2 separate regions of the Homo sapiens genome follow, and region 2 is linked to region 1. The links come from fine-mapping of genetic effects on gene expression. Tissue or cell type: spleen. Region 1 holds a variant in brackets; the other region holds the start of a gene. All regions are shown on one strand. Distances are from middle to middle.

What was found. PIP is the estimated chance that this variant, and not a neighbour inherited with it, causes the effect. A credible set is the group of variants that fine-mapping cannot tell apart.
Region 2: GPR142 starts here. The variant in region 1 is the best candidate, but not a certain one, in a credible set for the expression of GPR142 in spleen (GTEx, PIP 0.65).

Annotation. Positions count from the first base shown.
Region 1 is chr17:73,528,101-73,530,856 of GRCh38, forward strand. The region is part of intron 1 of SDK2 (sidekick cell adhesion molecule 2); the gene reads right to left. Among named protein-coding and RNA genes, the nearest start is that of SDK2-AS1, 16 kb to the left of the region's middle. The variant G/T (reference allele first, on the strand shown) is at 1,070.
Region 2 is chr17:74,366,176-74,368,675 of GRCh38, forward strand. It overlaps GPR142 (G protein-coupled receptor 142), which reads left to right and starts at 1,331. Exons shown (of 4, transcript NM_001331076.1): 1 at 1,331-1,619. RefSeq lists an enhancer at 1,945-2,500.

The sequences.
Region 1 (2,756 bases):
CAGCTGGTTATCCAGGTGGAACGTTCAGGTGCTAGCCAGTCCTGGACCCCAGAGGAGGGGTGTGGAGCCATCAGTTAGCAAATATAGGGGAACTGGAGCTGCACACCTTTCAAAATTCCCAGAGAGACAGGGGAGAGTGAAGAGGTAGGGAGCCCGGCAGTCTTTGCTGAGTACATCTCCAAAGTCTCCCCGGCTTCTTTTCCCATCCTGGGTTCCTCAGCCCCATTCCTAGTCTGTGCAGGTGCAGTGAAAGAAGTAACACGTATGAAGAGCTTGCAATGTGCCAGGTTGTCCCAGGCGATGCACCAAGTCCACATGACAATCCTCCAAGGTCACTACCACTTCTCTAATAGATGGGGAAGCAGCGATGCAGTGAGGCTGAGGATCTGCCCAAGGTCACTTGGGAGCGAGCAGTGGAGGGATTCACACTTGGGGCCGGTCAAGTCCTTGGCTCCTGCTCTCATCCCAAGGCGACCTACTGCCTCACTAAGCCCCAGGTGAACAGCGAGGGCTGCTTGCTCTCTGTTCTCCACTGTGATCCCCTAAGCCAGGGGCTGAGGCCTTCCACTCCTCCATCTCTCTCCTGCTCTCTGTTGACTCTTTGACACTGCAGGGTCACCATCCAGTACAGCAGATCAATCTCTCTACGGCTCATCTGCTCCCACTGCATTTATCCCCTGATGGTCGAAGCTTTTATTTCCCGGTGAGAGGAGCGTCCCCTGGCCATCCCCAGGCACAGATAACTTACGGACCAATCAATACAGCCATTACCCTTTGGACCATGGCACCGACACAGGTGCAAGGAGCCAGGGGAGCAGGCCTCGCCCCTGCACCTCTGCCATCCTTGAGGTCCCTGAGCTCTGCCCAGCTTCTGCAGCTCCTTCTGGTGGCTCTCACAAGGTCTTCTCATTGTTGCCCCCTCTTCTGTCTTTCTTGAGTCCTCTTACACCATTTTGTCTACCTGAGCCTTCTGTAAATACCTCCTTTAGGGGCTTAGCTTTCTTTTCTGTCATATGGGGAAACTATTTCCTTGTCCAGAAGAAAGATGATTCTGGGAAGAGAGGAGGTG[G/T]TTTCGTCTGTAATGAGCGAAAAGCATGCATGAGTGGGAACCGGGGAGTCCTACAGTCAGTACCGAGGTTGGGGACAGCTGAGGGAGGACCAGGCTGGAAAACAGAGATTTCACTCGGGTCTGCCTCCACCACTGGAGGCTGGGAGACTTTGGAAAGGCCACCTTAGCCCTCTGTGCCTCAATTTTCTCATCTGAAATGGAGCTAGCACCGTCAATATGAAGAGTGGAATGATTATTAAACAAGGCAGGCTAGGATTATTAACAAGGCTGCCTTGTTAATAAACCATAGGCAAATTAGGTCAGGGCACTGGGTGGAGTAGCGTTCCCCAAAATTCATTTCCACTTGGAACCTCAGAATGGGACCTTAATTTGGAAATAGAGACCTTGCAGGTGTAATTCTTCCTGTTAAGATGAGGCCATACTGGATCAGAATGAGCCTTGAATCCAATGACTAGTGCCCTTACAAGAAGACCAGGTGAAGCCACAGAGACACACGGGGAAGATGACCATGGGAAGACAAAGGCAGAGATTGCAGCAATATATCCACAAGTCAAAGAGCACCAAGGGTTGCCGGCAAACACCAAAAGCTAGAGACAGGCATGGAACAGGTCCTCCCTCAGCACCTCCAGAAGGAACCCGCTGGGCTGACACCTTTACTTTGGATTTCTGTGCCCCAAAACTCTGAGATGATATATTTTTGTTACTTGAGCCACCCAGTTTGTGGTATTTGTTATGGCAGCCACAGGAAACACATAGAGTTGTTAACACGGTAGTGGGAGAGATGTCCTTAATGCAGGACCCATTCCTGCTGCCCAGTGGGGTTAAGTGAAATTCTCTATGGACATGGGCAAGGTGGAAGGAAGGGGGCAAAACTACCCTTCCACATCTTGCATTCCAGTCGAACCCATACCTGAAGAATGGGACAGCTAGCTTCTTTATGCTTTGCTCTAGCTTCTTGTCTCCTCTCTGGCAACTGTTTATGACAGTCCCCTCCTGCATTAGTCCATTTTCACACTGCTATAAAGATACTGCCTGAGACTGGGTAATTTATAAAGTGAAGAGGTTTAATTGACTCACAGTTCTGCATGGCTGGGGAGGCCGAGGGAAACTTACAATCATGGCAGAAGGCGAAGGGGAAGCAAGGCACGTCTTACATGGTAGCAGGAGAGAGAGAGAGTGCAGGGGAAACTACCAAACACTTATAAAATCATCCATCAGCTCTCATGAGAACTCCCTCACTATCATGAGAACAGCATGGGGGAAACCGTCCCCATGATCCAATCACCTCCCACAAAGTCCCTCCCTCGACACCTGGGGATTACAATTTGAGATGAGATTTCAGTGGAGACACAGAGCCAAACCATATCACCTCCCTAGGATCCACAGAACACCCTATATACAAGGACCCTATATACAATGGTAGGGGCTGTAAGCCCCTCGCAGGGGTGTAGCTTGTACTGCTGGTTGGGTGGGAGCAATGATGTCCAAATGGCACTACCACATGCATCCCTTTCACCTGGTCTTACAGTCTCAATTACCCCTGGCATTCTCCAACCTTCTCCCCATGATGGCCTTAACAAATGTCACGGCACCATGTTAATTTTCAGAAGGGAATCATTTTGAGCATCTATTAGTGAGAACAACCATGCCCCTTGTGGCCCCAGTAGAGCATCTAGCTACAAACCCA
Region 2 (2,500 bases), 840 kb after region 1:
GAGCACATAAAGGTAAATATGAGGCCGGGCATGATGTCTCACACCTTTAATTCCAGCACTTTGGGAGGCTGAGGCGGGTGGATCACTTGAGGTCAGGAGTTCAAGCCCAGCCCGGGCAACATGGTAAAACCCCGTCTCTACTAAAACTACAAATATTAGCCAAGCTTGGTGGCTGGTGACTGTAATCCCAGCTACTTGGGAGGCTGAGGCAGGAAAATCGCTTGAACCCGGGAAGCAGAGGTTGCAGTGAGCTGAGATTGCACCCCTGCACTCCAGCCTGGGCAACAGGGTGAGACTCTGTCTCAAACAAACAAAAACTTAAATAAGAAGGAATCCTTGGCCAGGTGTGGTGGCTCACATCTGTAATCCCAGCACTCTGGGAGGCCGAGGCAGGTGGATTGCATGAGCCCAGGAGCTCGAGACCAGCCTAGGCAACATGGCGAAACACCGTCTCTACAAAAAATACGAAAATTAGCTGGGCGTGTTGGTGCTTGCCTGTAATGCCAGCTATTTGGGAGGCTGAGATGGGAGGATCACTTGAGCCTGGGAGTTCGAGGCTGCAGTGAGCTATGATCACACCACTGTACCACAGCCTGGGTGACAGAGTGAGACCCTGTCTTGAGGGGTAGGGAGGCAGAAGGAAAAAAAAGAGAGAGAGAGACCCTGGTGCTCAGGCCTGGTGGCTCTGGCTGGACTGATCAGGGCTGAAGACTTCAGAGACCAAAAAGGTCAAGGTGTGGCCGGGTGCGGTGGCTCACACCTGTGATCCCAGCATTTTTGGGAGACCCAGGTGGGCATATCACCTGAGGCCAGGAGCTCAGGACCAGCCTGGCTAACACGGTGAAACCCCGTCTCTACTAAAAATACAAAAATTAGCCAGGCATGGTGGCAGGCACCTGTAATCCCAGCTACTTGGGAGGCTGAGGCAGGAGAATCACTGGAACCCAGGAGGCAGAGGTTGCAGTGAGCCGAGATAGCACCATTGCACTCCAGCCTGGGTGACAGAGCGAGACTCTGTCTCAAAAAGAAAAGAAAAAAAAAGTCAAGGTGTGCGGCTGGGTCTTCATAACATCTTTCACCTTGCCCAGGCTGGCTCAGAGGTGACTGCCTTAGTGGATAGGATCCCTTCCACCGTGGGCTAGCAGCCTACCCTGGTCACTGACACCACACCATGTAGGAAAGAATCGCCACCACCAAGAAGGGGCCTCTCACCTCTGTATAGGCTGTGTGCTGGCTGATGACGTGGTTGCCCTGTCCTGTCTGCTGCTGCCACTGAGCTGGACATCTCCAGGCTCCATCTCTTGAACCATGGATCCCAGCGTTGTTAGCAATGAGTATTATGATGTTGCCCATGGAGCAAAAGATCCAGTGGGTCCCCACTTCCCTGCAGGACATCACTGCTGTCCTGGGTACAGAAGCATATACTGAGGAAGACAAATCAATGGTGTCCCATGCACAGAAAAGCCAGCATTCTTGTCTCAGCCATTCCAGGTGGCTGAGGTCTCCACAGGTCACAGGGGGAAGCTGGGACCTCCGAATAAGGCCATCCAAGGACTCCAGCAGTTTCCGCCAGGTGAATCCAGCTGCCTCCCAGAACAGGCCTTCTATGGGGTGGGATGGTAAGTTGCTGGAAGGACGTGCATGGGGCATCATTGTAGCAAACTCAGTCCCCCTCCTCCATCTCTCCCTCTCCTCGCTCTGAATCCAGGGAGCTCTAGTTTTCTGTGTAGCCTGTGTGACAGCCTTGGTTGAAACCCTTGTGTTCCGTCTGAAGAATATTTAAGGTTTCCAGTCAAGTGTACATCCCTCAAAGAAACAAAGTGGGCTTGGCATGGTGACTCACACCTGTAATCCCAGCTCTTTGAGAGGCCAAGGCAGAAGGACCACTTGAAGCCTGGAGTTCCAGACCAGCCTCGGCAACACAGCGAGGCCCCAAACTCTCTCTATATCTATACATAAAATTTAAAAAACAAAGTGTAGGGACAGGGTGGGCACTCGGTAAATGTTGGCAGGGACCCTCCTTGCCCCTCACCCATGGCAGCTCCTTGAAGAGAGGGTCAGCCTCCTCTCACCCCTAGCCTCCTGCTGCAAGGAGGTGGTGGCCTGGGGCGTCATCTGTGCTACTTGCACTTTCTGGGGCTGGGGTCCCAGCACTCCACCAGAGGACCTGCCCTGAGCGGGCAGCTCCGTCTCCAGTCCCACTGTGCCACCCAGGGTGCCTAGCCAAACCATGGGACTTTCAGGCTTGCAGGGTCAGGATGTGGCCACCAGGGGGCAGCAGGGCCTGCGCTGTGAGTATCCGAGGGGGGGTTGGGATGGGGAGTTCCAGGCTCTGATGTGAGATCTAACTCCCAGAGCTGGGAAGCTCCCTATATTTCCTGCCATATTTTCTGCTGCATTCCCAGAGGACAGGCCATGGGAGGTGATTCCAGGGGGGCCTGAGCTCTCCTCCCGAGACCGTCCACGGGGCATCCATGTCCCGGGTACCTGCTTGTGGGCT